Linked DNA regions of Homo sapiens. The protein of the gene in region 1 interacts with the protein of each later gene in a pairwise test. Each region holds a gene or a part of one and is shown in the gene's direction. Other genes may lie near its edges.

Evidence for each region. The genes of interacting proteins can lie anywhere in the genome.
Region 2: the proteins of ENTREP3 (region 1) and UQCRH interact in a two-hybrid assay, tested with the Homo sapiens proteins (one large-scale study listed by BioGRID).
Region 3: the proteins of ENTREP3 (region 1) and WWOX interact in binary tests that used the Homo sapiens proteins (3 or more experiments, as listed by UniProt).

What each region holds. Positions count from the first base shown.
Region 1 is NC_000001.11:155,246,705-155,251,705, reverse strand, and holds the end of ENTREP3 (protein ENTREP3), read left to right. Parts: intron 1-104; coding exon 105-204; intron 205-541; coding exon 542-611; intron 612-884; coding exon 885-1,430; intron 1,431-3,232; coding exon 3,233-3,301; intron 3,302-3,402; coding exon 3,403-3,656; intron 3,657-3,750; coding exon 3,751-3,924; 3' UTR 3,925-4,501; downstream 4,502-5,001.
Region 2 is NC_000001.11:46,312,894-46,317,276, forward strand, and holds the end of UQCRH (cytochrome b-c1 complex subunit 6, mitochondrial isoform 1 precursor), read left to right. Parts: intron 1-3,658; coding exon 3,659-3,691; 3' UTR 3,692-3,883; downstream 3,884-4,383. UniProt on the Homo sapiens protein: Component of the ubiquinol-cytochrome c oxidoreductase, a multisubunit transmembrane complex that is part of the mitochondrial electron transport chain which drives oxidative phosphorylation.
Region 3 is NC_000016.10:78,108,850-78,113,153, forward strand, and holds part of WWOX (WW domain-containing oxidoreductase), read left to right. Parts: intron 1-928; coding exon 929-986; intron 987-4,304. UniProt on the Homo sapiens protein: Putative oxidoreductase. Acts as a tumor suppressor and plays a role in apoptosis. Required for normal bone development. May function synergistically with p53/TP53 to control genotoxic stress-induced cell death.

The sequences.
Region 1 (5,001 bases):
GAGCTAAGGAAGGGGACTGGGGCTGGGCCTGGATTGCTGGAGAGAGGGATCTTTGTGGAGGGGGAATTATTTCTCCTACATTGACCCTCTTCCTCATCTGCCAGCATCACGTACAATGGCTCCATGGACAGCCCAGTGCCCTTGTACCCTACCGATTGCCCCCCTTCTTATGAGGCAGTCATGGGACTACGAGGAGACAGCCAGGTGAGAGCACAGCACGGCTTGGGGCGGGCTGGGGAGCCGGGTTGTAGCCTGGAAAGCTGAACAGGCTGTAGCCTCTGGATAAAGATAGTAACAGTGGTCAAGGTCTTTACAGCACCAGCATGCCCACTGTTGCCTTTGATCTTCCCTAGAGCCTGGTGAGGTGAGTGGGTTGGAAGCTATCATTTCTGCCATACAGACGTGGAAGCTGAGGCTGCACAATTAAGTGACTTGTACAAAGGGACAAGGCTGGTCTGGAATCTAAGTCTCCAGAGCTCTGTCTAGCACATGGGGGTGTTCAGTGTGTAGGGCTGAACCCTTGACCCTGTGTCTTCTGCAGGCCACTCTCTTTGACCCTCAGCTTCACGATGGCTCGTGCATCTGTGAACGAGTGGCCTCCATTGTAGACGGTGAGCAGGGCGTAATGAGGGGTGGACAAGGGCGGGGCTGCCAGGGATAGCTGGGGTGGGTAGAGACAATAGAAGGGGAAAACAAGGCGGAGTTGGTGGTTTGGGGACATAGGAGGGCTGTGGCAACTTGGAACCCTGGACTTATTTTTCTCCTCTGAGATAAAGCTGGAGGCACAGTGGCCCCTAGAGGCTGGGCTTGGGAGAAGAGGAACTGCCTGGGCAGGGCTAGGCCAGGCCAGGCTGGTGCTACACAGCGCCCCCTGCCGCCCACAGTGTCCATGGACAGCGGGTCTCTGGTGCTGTCAGCCATTGGTGACCTCCCTGGGGGCTCTAGCCCGTCGGAGGACTCGTGCCTGCTGGAGCTGCAGGGCTCCGTGCGCTCCGTGGACTACGTTCTCTTTCGCTCCATCCAGCGCAGCCGTGCCGGCTACTGCCTCAGCCTGGACTGTGGCCTGCGGGGCCCCTTCGAGGAAAGCCCCCTGCCACGGCGCCCCCCACGGGCTGCCCGCTCCTATTCCTGCTCTGCCCCTGAAGCTCCACCCCCACTGGGTGCCCCCACAGCTGCCCGCAGCTGCCACCGGTTGGAGGGCTGGCCGCCCTGGGTGGGACCCTGCTTCCCCGAGCTGAGGCGGCGGGTCCCCCGGGGAGGGGGCCGCCCAGCCGCAGCCCCGCCCACCCGAGCCCCGACTCGTCGCTTCAGCGATAGCTCAGGTTCCCTCACCCCACCGGGGCACCGGCCTCCTCATCCGGCATCCCCACCACCGCTGCTGCTGCCACGGTCCCACAGCGACCCAGGCATCACGACCTCCAGTGACACTGGTGAGCCCCCTCCCCGACTGCCCAGGCTCAGGAGAGGGTAGGCACTGGGAGTTAGGTGGCCAGTGATGCCCACCAGGATTGGGGCACAGTTGAGGTCCCTGAGGAGGAAGAAAGGGTGAGTTCACTCCTCTGGTAGACACTTCTCAGGTACTCACCTCCTAGGGACAGAACATCCATAGCTTAGCAGCTAAAAAAGGAGAATTTTTTTTTTTTTTTGAGACGGAGTCTCTGGCTCTGTCGCCCAGGCTGGAGTGCAGTGGCATGATCTTGGCTCACTGCAACCCGTTTCCCGGGTTCAAGTGACTCTCTCCTGCTTCAGCCTGCCGAGTAGCTGGGACTACAGGTGTGCGCCACCATGACCGGCTAATATTTTTTTTTTTTTTTTTTTTTGAGACGGTGTCTCGCTCTGTCACCCAGGCTGGAGTGCAGCCGCGCGATCTGGGCTCACTGCAAGCTCCGCCTCCCGGGTTCACGCCATTCTCCTTCCTCAGCCTCCCGAGTAGTGAGTAGCTGGGACTACAGATGCCTGCCACCACGCCCGGCTATTTTTTTGTATTTTTAGTAGAGATGGGGTTTCACCGTGTTATCCAGGATGGTCTCAATCTCCTGACCTCGTGATCTGCCCGCCTCGGCCTCCCAAAGTGCTGGGATTACAGGCATGAGTCACCGTGCCCGGGCAATTTTTGTATTTTTTAGTAGAGACAGGGTTTCACCCTTTTGGCCAGGCTGGTCTTGAACTCCTGACCTCAAGTGATCCACCCGCCTCGGCCTCCCAAAAGGATTTATTTTTTGAAACCAGTTCCACAGCTCTCAGCTTGGTCCACTTATCTGTCCTCCCCAAGCTTCAGCTGTCACTTGTTAAACATGTATAATAATAGTACTTCAGGCCGGGCACGGTGGCTTGCACCTGTAATCCCAGCACTGTGGGAAGCTGAGGTGGGTGGATCACCTGAGGTCGGGAGTTCGAGACCAGCCTGGCTAACATGGTGAAACCCTATCTCTACTAAAAATACAAAAATTAGCCAGGTGTGGTGGAGCGCGCCTGTAATTCCAGCTACTAACAGAGAGGCTAAGGCAGGAGAATCGCTTGAACCTGGAAAGCAGGGGTTGCCGTGAGCCAAGATCATGCCACTGCACTCCAGCCTGGGTGACAGAGACACACTCCATCTCAAAAACACAAACAAACAAACAAAAAACATGTATAATAACAGTACTTCAGCCATAGGCATTGTACTCGAAGATGCTGAGAAAGGAGACAGTGGCCGGGCAAGGCTGTTCACACCTATAATCCCAGCACTTTGGGAGGCCAAGGCAGGTGGATCACCTGAGGTCAGGAGTTCAAGACCAGCCTAGCCAACATGGTGAAACCCCCATCTCTACTAAAAATTGAAAAATTAGCTGGGCCTGGTGGTGGACGCCTGTAATCCCAGCTACTAGGGAGGCTGAGGCAGGAGAATCGCTTGAACCTGGGAGGCGGAGGTTGCAGTGAGCTGAGATCGTACCACTGCACTCCGGCCTGGGCAACACAGTGAGACTCCATCTCAAAAAAATAAGAAAGGAGATAGTACTGGGGAACGCTCAGCACTGTGCGCCAGGTGCTGAACAACACCACTGCAGTCCTTGTTGTGGTGGATTGTACCATCTAGTTGCTGGCTAATATGGACAGAGATGCTGGCCCTTTGATTGGGGATGGAGCGTGGGAGCTGTGAAAGCTCCTCTGGGCTTGAGTTCCCACAGGAGGGTGGGCGTGTCCACAGAACACTTCCACTCACTCCCTGTCTCCCTTTCTCTCTTCTCCCCAGCTGACTTCAGGGACCTTTATACCAAAGTGCTTGAGGAAGAAGCTGCTTCTGTTTCCTCTGCAGATACAGGTCAGGCATGTGGTTTGCGCCCCAGGGATGGGGATTGGGCATGGCTGCCCAGCCCCCTCTCCACCCTACAATACCATTCTCTTATCTCTGTCTCTCTGCAGGGCTCTGCTCTGAAGCCTGCCTCTTCCGCCTAGCCCGCTGCCCTTCCCCCAAGTTGCTACGTGCCCGGTCAGCCGAGAAACGGCGCCCTGTGCCCACCTTCCAAAAAGTTCCCCTGCCCTCGGGCCCTGCACCTGCCCACTCCCTGGGGGACCTAAAGGGCAGCTGGCCAGGTCGGGGCCTGGTCACTCGTTTCCTCCAGATATCCAGGAAAGCCCCAGACCCCAGTGGGACTGGAGCTCATGGACATAAGCAGGTAGGAATTCGGGGAGCCAGGAAAGATGTTTGGGAAAGCGTGGAGCTTCAGATTGAGCCTTATTGATGATGCCCTTTCTTGTGTCCCTGTCCAGGTGCCCCGGAGCCTGTGGGGCCGGCCTGGCCGAGAGAGCCTCCACCTTCGCAGCTGCGGAGATCTGAGCTCTAGCTCTTCCCTGCGGCGTCTCCTGTCTGGCCGCAGGCTGGAGCGTGGTACCCGCCCCCACAGCCTCAGCCTCAACGGGGGCAGCCGGGAGACTGGGCTCTGACCTAGGCTTCTTGTCACACTGAACACATCCAGCCACAGGCACCAGCTGGTTGGGACCAGCAGCCCCCAGCATCCTCTTGCACTGGCTGGCACAAAAAGAAACCTGCTGTATACCCCCCAAAGTGTCCCTTTCCCTCCTACCTCTGGGGTCTCTTGCTGCTTGCCTCTGCTGCTCTGGACTGGGAGAGCTTCTGTCCTGTGCTGCATGGGTATTTAGACTGTGGGGGAGATGCCCCTTCTTATAGCACTGGAGGAGGAAAACAAATTCTTGTCCCCCTCAGAATGAGAGTGGCTCTTTCTGATTTGCAAGGGCACTATGGTCAGGGCAAAGGCATGGCCCAGGTGTTTAAGTACAGGGTGACGTGTGCCTATGCAATGGGGTGGTAAGGCAGGCACGAAGAGTCCAAAAAATCTAGGTGGCCTCTCAGCTCTGCCACCTCTAGCTGCATGACCTTGGGCAAGCTATGTAACCCCAATTGCCTGCTCCATTAAAGACTGTGAAGGTAGAATGTTTGTAAAGCTCTTAACAGTATGTAAGCCTTCAATAAATTTCAGTTTTCCCCTTGTTTTCTTGATCATTCTCTGTCACCAGTGAAATTTGTTCTAGTGTCTCTCATATTTAAGAAAACTCTTTCAGGACTGGGTATGGTGGCTCACACCTATAATCCTAGCACTTTGGGAGGCCGAAGCAAGAGGATCGCCTGAGCCTAGGAATTCAAGACCAGCCTGGGCAACATAGTGAGACCCTGTCTCTACAAAAAACAAAAAATTAGCCAGGCATGGTGGGACACGCCTGTAGTCCCAACTACTCAGGTGGCTAAGGTGAGAGGATCACTTGAGCTTGGGAAGTCCAGGCTGCAGTAAGCTGTGATTGAGCCACTGCACTACAGCCTGGGCAACAGAGCAAGACCATGTCTCAAAAAAAAAAAAAAAAGAAAAAAGAAACTTTCAAGACACTCTTTCCAACCACTAATTGTAACTCTGCTCCTCCTTTTCACAGCAATAGGTTTTCTTTTTCTTCCCTCCACTGTTAAACATCCATTCTCTCCTCACCCACCCCCATCAGACTCCTTCCCCT
Region 2 (4,383 bases), about 110 Mb from region 1:
ATAACACTTTATACCAACTGCCCACTAGGATGGCTATAATAAAGAAGATAACGAGTGTTGACGACAATGTGGAAAAGTTGGAAACCTCATACGCTGTCAGTAAAAGTGTAAATTGGTACAGCCACTGTGGAAAACATCTGGCAGTTCCTCAAAAGGCTAAATATACAGTTAATATATGACACAGCAATTACACTCGAAGATATATACCCAAGAGAAATGAAAACATATGTTCACATAAAAACTTGTACACAAATGTTCATAGAAGCATTATTTATACTACCCAAAAAGTGGAAACAACATAAGTGTCCATCAGCTAGGCTGGGCACTGTGGCTCATGCTTGTAATCGCAGAACTTTGCGAGGTCAAGGCAGGCAGATCACCTGAGCCCAGGAATTTGAGACCAGCCTGGGCAACATGGTAAAACCCTGTCTTTACAAAAAATATATATATAAAAGCCGGGCGCGGTGGCTCACGCCTGTAATCCCAGCCCTTTGGGAGGCGGAGGCGGGTGGATCATGAGGTCAGGAGATCGAGACCAGCCTGGCCAATATGGTGAAACCCCATCTCTACTAAAAATACAAAAAAATTAGCCGGGCGTGGTGGCGGGCGCCTGTAGTCCCAGCTACTTGGGAGGCTGAGGCTGGAGAATGGCGTGAACCCGGGAGGCGGAGCTTGCAGTGAGCTGAGATTGTGCCACTGCACTCCAGCCTGGGCGACAGAGCGAGACTTCATCTCAAAAAAATATAGACAGATAGATAGATAGATAGATAGATAGATAGATAGATAGATAGATATAGATAACCAGGCAAGCTGGCTCACACCTGTAGTCCTAGCTACTTGGGAGGCTGAGGTGGGAGGATCACCTGAGCCTGGGGAAGTCAAGGCTTCAGTGAGCCATGATCACGCCACTGCACTCCAGCCTGGGTGACAGACTGAGACCCTGTCTCAAAAAAAAAAAAACAAGTTCTTTTCTCAAAAATTAAACATAGAATTATGTACTATATGATCTAGCAATTTCACTTCTAGGTATATACCCAGAAGTATTGAGAGTAGGCTTAAACAGATATTTCCACATTCATATTCACAATAGCCAAAAGGTAGAAACAACCCAATTTTCCATCCATAGATGCAAAGATTTTTTTAAAATGTGCTTTGTATATACAATGGGATATTATTCAGCCTTAAAAGAGAAGGGGGCCGGGGCACGGTGGCTCATGCCTGTAATCCCAACACTTTGGGAGGCCAAGGCAGGCGGATCACAAGGTCAGGAGATTGAGACTATCCTGGCTAACACGGTAAAACCCTGTCTCAAAATACAAAAGATTAGCCGGGCATGGTGGCGGGTGCTTGTAGAACCAGCTACTTGGGAGGCTGAGGCAGGAGATTGGCATGAACCCGGGAGGCGGAGCTTGCAGTGAGCTGAGATCACGCCACTGCACTTCAGCCTGGGTACAGAGCAAGACTCCGTCTCAAAAAAAAAAAAAAAAAGAGAAGGGGCTGGGCATAGCAGCTCATGCCTGTAATCCCAGCTTTTTGGGAGGCCGAGGCAAGTGGATCACCTGCTGTCCGGAGTTCGAGACCAGCTTGACCAATATGATGAAACCCCGTCTCTACTAAAAACACAAAAATTGGCTGCGCATGGTGGTATATGCGCCTGTAATCCCAGCTACTCGGGAGGCTGAGACAGGAGAATTGCTTGAACCCCGGAGGTGGAGGCTGCGGTGAGCCAAAGTTGCGCCATTGCACTCCACCCTGGGCAACAAGAGCAAAACTCCGTCTCAAAAAAAAAAAAAAAAAGGAGGGAAACTCTGACACGTGCTGCAACATTGATGAACCTTGGAGACATTAAACTAAGTGTCAAGGAAGACAAACATTGTATTGTTCCACTTTGGTGAGGTACCTAGAATAGCAGTCACATTCATAGAGACAGAAAGTAGAATGGTAGTAACCAGGAGCTGAGGGGAGAAAGGAAATGGAGAGTTACTGTTTAATGGATATAGTTTTGATTTAGTAAGATGAAAAAGGTCCCAAGATTGGACGTTCTAGAGATTGTAGGGGACTGTATGGTTGTAGAACAATGGGAATGCACTTAACTGCCACAGAAATGTACAGTTAAAAATGATTAAAGTGGGGCCTTGTGCGGTGGTTCACACCTCCTACACTTTGGGAGGCCAAGGCAGGCATGTCACTTGAGGTCAGGAGTTTGAGACCACCTCGGACAACATGGTGAAACCTTGTCTCTACTAAAATAAAAAATTAGCTGAGTGTAGGCCAGGTGCGGTGGCTCACGCCTGTAATCCCAGCACTTTCAGAGGCTGAGGCACGTGGATCACCTGAGGTCGGGAGTTCGAGACCAGCCTGACCAACATGGAGAAACACCGTCTCTACTAAAAATACAAAATTAGCCGGGCGTGGTGGCACATGCCTATAATCCCAGCTACTAGGGAGGCTGAGGCAGGAGAATCGCTTGAACCTGGGAGGCAGAGGTTGCGGTGAGCCATTGCACTCCAGCCTGGGCAACAAGAGTGAAACTCTGTCTCAAAAAAAAAAATTAGCTGAGTGTGGTGGCGCACACTTGTAATCCCAGCTACTCAGGAGTCTGAGGCAGGAGAATCACTTGAACCCGGGAGGCGGAGGTTGCAGTGAGCCAAGATTGTACCACTGCACTCCAGCCTGGGGGACAGAGCAAGACTGCCTCAAAAAAAAAAAAAAAAAAAAGATTAAAATAGAAAAAAAAAATTACTGAAGTGGAAAATTTTATGTTAGATGTATTTTATCATAATTTTTAACAAAATAAGTACTGAACATGCTACAACCTGGATAAACCTTGCAAACATGCTAAATGCTAAGGGGAAAAAGCCAGTCACAAAGTAAAAAATATCGTATGATATGATTTGTATGAAATGTTCAAAATAGGCAAGTCATGATCTGTTCCCTGAATTAACATCCCTACTGTTGATTTTCCCCCTCCCACTGTGTGGTCATTCTAAAAATATTTACATATATTTGTCAGCCAAGCACTGGTTTAGGATCTGGGAGTAAGATAGACATGGTTCATTCCTTCACTGAGTTTATGAGCCAGCATAGGAAACAGAAGTAGAACAAGTGCTAAACTTTGGTAAGTCTCTCAGGTATACCTTTCTCAGGGTAATATTAACTGAACCCCCCGCCCCGCCTCCCATTTATTTTCCTCCTAGCATTTCCCATTATCACAGGTTACCTTATTTATGTGTTCATTTTAACTCATTACCCTGTAAGTTTCTTAAGTGGCAGGCATGTTTTGTTACAGTTATAACTCACTCAGCACTTAGAACACTACCTGGCATATAGGAGATGTCCTGTTGAATTAATATGTAATGTTAATGTCACTGATGGGGAGGTACAAGTTTTTGTGGAAAGATAGGAGGGACAGATTTGTGTGTGGATAGGGGCTTGTTTAGAGAAGGCTTGCAGGAAATGACAGTTATCAGATCTAAATTCTAAAGGAAGAATAAAAGATGAAAAAAGTGGGGAGTTCACTAGGACTCAAGTGCTGCTTGCCTATGTGAGAAGGGGAGTGGTGAGAAGAGGGGCAGTACTGTTTCAGGTCTTGAAGGACCTTGTAAGCCATGACATTAAAGCTGCCAATTGATTACCTCCTTTTCTTTCCCCCATCTAGGTGGCCCACAAACTCTTTAACAACTTGAAATAAATGTGTGGACTTAATTCACCCCAGTCTTCATCATCTGGGCATCAGAATATTTCCTTATGGTTTTGGATGTACCATTTGTTTCTTATTTGTGTAACTGTAAGTTCACATGAACCTCATGGGTTTGGCTTAGGCTGGTAGCTTCTATGTAATTCGCAATGATTCCATCTAAATAAAAGTTCTATGATCTGCAAACCTGCCCGTCTTTTTTTTTTAATTGAGAATTTTTTTTTTTAATTTGATATTTTCTTTTAGTTTTGAGGGGGTGGGGAGCGGCAAGGAGGACAGGGTCTTACTTTGTTGGCTAGGCTGGAATGCAGTGGCGCAAACAGCTCATTGCAGCCTCCACTTCCTGGGCTCAACTGACCCTCTCACCGTGGCCCCAAGTTGCTGGGACTACAGCATGCATCACCATGCCCAGCTAATTTTAAAAATATTTTGGGCCGGGCGCGGTGGCTCACACCTGTAATCCCAGCACTTTGGGAGGCCGAGGCGGGTGGATCACGAGGTCAGGGGTTCGAGACCAGCCTGACCAACATGGTGAAACCCCGTCTCTACTAAAAATAAGAATATTAGCTGGGCATGGTGGCGGGCACCTGTAGTTCTAGCTACTCAGGAGGCTTAGGCGGGAGAATTGCTTGAACCCGGGAGGCAGAAGTTGCAGTGAGCCAAGATCGCGCCACTGCACTCCAGGC
Region 3 (4,304 bases), on another chromosome or scaffold:
TGGTTGCATGCGCCTGTAATTCCAGCTACTTTGGAGGCTGAGGCACGAGAAGTGCTCAAACCCAGGAGCTGGAGGTTGCAGTGAGCCAAGATCACACCACTGCGCTCCAGCCTCGGTGACAGAGTGAGATGCTGTCTGAAAAATAGCGACAACAACAACAACAAAAACCAGAAAATAATTGAGGCCTTTGATTCACAGTTTATGATGTTTTCCTATCGTTGCAGTGTTTATAAAATTGTTCTTGGCTATACTATGGAATTAAATATATAAGTATTTGGAAATTTCGTAAAGATTACCATGACTTCTAGGTGATTCTGAGATAATGTATGATCCACGGAATAGAAGTATAAGAAAGGGACAGGCACGGTGGCTTGTGCTTGTGATCCCAGCCCTTTGGGAGGCAGAGGTGGGAGGATCACTTGTGCCTGGGAATTCGAGGTGAGCCTAGGCAACATAGTGAGACCCCATCTCAAAAAAAAATATGAGAAGGTTCCTGCCCTTAAGAGGTTTAGGATCCAGCTGAAGAATCAACATGTGCACATGAAAAAAAATGGCCGTGCCCTCTAATGTCATATGAGGTCAGCGTATGAATGACGTTGGGTGCCTGCCCTGCATATACATATGTTCTTTGAGCTCATTCAAGGGAGAATTCCCATGGATTGGCACAACCAGTATGGTTTATAGAGCGATCAGGAATAAAATAGGTTTTCTTCAAAACAAGAGGCAAAAATGTGGAGCCCAGGGTGGGATCAGGGGCCTTCTGCAGCTGTCGCAGTTGGAACATGTGACGAAAGCCAGTTGATGTGACAACTGCTGGGTGGGAGGGACAGGCTTGGGGGCGGGGCTGGGAGGGCTCCTTCCCTTCCTGACCCAGGGATGGTCTTTACTTCTCCCTGGCACCTGTAGACCTGTCTTTCTTGTGTTTCAGATTTGCCATACGGATGGGAACAAGAAACTGATGAGAACGGACAAGTGTTTTTTGTTGAGTAAGTGTCTGCAAAGAAACCACTCTCAGCTGTTTTGCTTTTTAATAGGAATTTTTAATTATAAAAGTAATACATAGTAACTGTAGAAAAATACAAAGTATAACAGTGTGTATCTGTAATCTTAGCAGAAGTGACTACTTTTAACATCGCTGGAACTTTTAACATCGCTAGATTTATTCTTCTATTTTCCCCGCACACGCATCCTTAAAAAAAAAAAGTAGGGAGGCCAGGCATGGTGGCTCATGCCTGTAATCCCAGCACTTTGGGAGGTCGAAGTGGGTGGATCCTGAGGTCAAGAGATCGAGACCATTCTGGCCAACATGGTGAAACTCCGTCTCTACTAAAAATATAAAAATGAGCTGGGTGTGGTGGCACGTGCCTGTGGTCCCTGCTACTCGGGAGGGTAAGGCGGGAGAATCACTTGAACCCAGGAGGCGGAAGTTGCAGTGAGCTGAGATCGCGCCACTGCACTCCAGCCTGGGTGACAGAATGAGACTCCTTCTCAAAAAAAAAAAAAAAAAAAAAAGAGGGAATGCACTGTGTGGACTGTTTAGTAACCTGCTTTTTCCATGTAATATATTATGAGCATTTTCTTGTATCCATATCTATTTTTCAAAAAGATGCTATTTAGCAGCTCTAGAGTTATTATTTTGTACAGATATACTATAATTTATCAAATTGCCTATTGGACATTAATGCTAAATTCCTGTTATAGAGAACCTATAATTATAAATAATGTATTGAGCATCCTTATCTGTAAGACTTTTTCACCTCTCTGATTCTGTCTTTAGGATAAATTCCGGTATCACGCAGCAATAGTAACCACCTGTCCAACATATAGCATGAGCCAGGCCTGATTCTAATCATCTTGTATCTGTAGCATTAGGTCATTGGATCCCCACAGTGCCCTGAGAGGTAGTATTGTTATTATCCCTAGCTTACTGCCAGTGACACAGACTTGAGGGGGTAAGTGACTTGTTAAGGATCCCACAGCAAAGAAGTAGCACAGCCAGGCTTTGAGCCCAGCACCTGCTCCAGGGACTGTACTCTTGACCACCGTAGTTAAGAGGAGAATTAATGTTTCACAACTGTCAACATTTAAATTAGAAGCTTGAATAGTCTTTGACAGGATTAGGATTGGTTGGTTAATAGAAGTTGATTTGAGCAGGAATTTTTTTTTTTTTTAAAGTTATGAATGTAACATAAACGTTTCAGTATTTGATTCAAGTACACCAACATTTAGGGGTCGGGCCAGCCCTCCTCTGAGTGTGAGTCCACTTGCATGGATCCAGTGTGGTCTTCCTTCCCCTAAGCATGCCTGTAACATAACATCTACAATTTCTACTTTCATTTTATGTGGGCGAAAGAGTACCTAGGTGCCGAGGCAAGAGACTGAAGGCACAAACTGTTTCAGTATAATAAAGAAAGTAGTTAGAATAAGAATAGTCATAATACAGGTTAGATATGGAGATGATCATGGACAATTATCAATCATTACTATAAACACTATTAATCATTAGCTTTTAATATTACTCTTTGTGGCATTACTAACATAACCTAGGAATAACTGGCATGTATAGGCTCAGGTGCTAAAGGGACATTGTGAGAAGTGACCTAGAAGGCAAGAGGTGAGCCTTCTGTCACACCCGCATAAGGGCTGCTTGAGGGCTCCTTGGTCAAGCGGTAACGCCAGTGTCTGGGAAGACACCCGTTACTTAGCAGACCGCGAAAGGGAGTCTCCTTTCCTTGGAGGAGTCAGGGAACACTCTGCTCCACCAGCTTCTTGTGGAAGGCTGGGTATTATCCAGGCCTGCCCACAGTCATCCGGAGGCCTAAACCCCTCCCTGTGGTGCTGTGTTTCAATGGTCACGTACGTTGTCCGCTTTCATGCTCCTCCCGTACTCCTGGTTCCTCTTTGAAGTACGTAGTAGATAGTGGTAGAAGAAATGGTGAAAGTTTTAAAGTCTTTGATCTTTCTTTTAAGGGCAGAAAAGAAAATGCTGACGTATGCTGCCTTCTCTCTCTGCTTCGGCTACCTAAAAGGGAAGGGCCCTCTATCCTGTAATCACGTGACTTGCTTCACCTTGTCAATCACTTAGAAGATTCACCCTCCTTACCCTGCCCCCTTGTCTTGTATGCGATAAATATCAGCGTGCCCAGCCGTTCGGGGCCACTACCGGTCTCCACATCTTGGTGGTAGTGGCCCCCACCCTGGGCCCAGCTGTTTTCTCCTTATCTCTTTGTCTTGTGTCTTTATTTATTACAATCCCTCGTCTCTGCACACGGGGAGAACACCCGCTAAGCCCAGTAGGGCTGGACCCTACAACTTTAAGGTTGAGCAAACACAGTATTTTCAAAGAATCTGATTGCTACATCATTTGGGAGTTTTATGGTATTTTTCTAGCATTTTCACTGTAGTTGATTGAACCAAAACTTTTTTTTTAGCTGCTTGTCTTTGAGGCTCTCCAAAGCATTCGACCACATTTTCATAGATACCACTGACACTATTTTTCACCTCCCATGTTATCAGTTTGTGTAATAGTAGCTTGCTGGTAATGTAGTTACAGTAACAAGTTCAAATGACATGTGTGTTTTTTGAGCAAACCTGGTGAACTTTTGGTGCAAAACTGATATTGAGAGCAAATAGGCCAAAGCTTGCTTGAGAGAAGTCTCCCAGGCCACCATAGGCAGCCCCAGGAAGACGGGGCTGTCTAGCAGTTGGATAGGTGGGAGTGCCTATTATTTGTTAAAAGGCTTTTTGCCTAACTTGTGAAAGTTTTTTTTCCTCAACTAATTAAGGGTATCAACGCATTGGTTGTATGTTGAAAATGTTGAAAATGTTTTTTTTTTTTTTCCAAGTTTTCTTTCTTTTTTTTTTTTTATACTGGGTCTTGCTCTTCTTATCCAGGGCTGAGGTGCAGTGACACAGTCACAGCTCGCTGCAGCCTCAACCTCCTGGACTCAAGTGATCCTCCTGCCTCAGCCTTCTGAGGAGCTGGGACTACAGGCTCATGCTGCCATGCCCAGCTAATTTTTAAAGACTTTTTTTTTGTAGAGACTGAGGCTCAGTATGTTGCCCAGGCTGGTCTTGAACTTCTGGCCTTCAGCGATCCTCCTGCCTTGACTTCCCAAAGCATTCATATTACAGGCATGAGCGACCACACCTGACTGAATTTCTTAAATTTTTTATGTAGTCAAATCAATTTTCTCCTGTGCAGTCTTTGCCTTTGCATTCACGCTTGGAAAGTTACTCCCTGAAATGGGTATTAATCAACCAAGAGCAGCAGTTCTCAGGCATGGTTCCTGGACCAGCAGCAT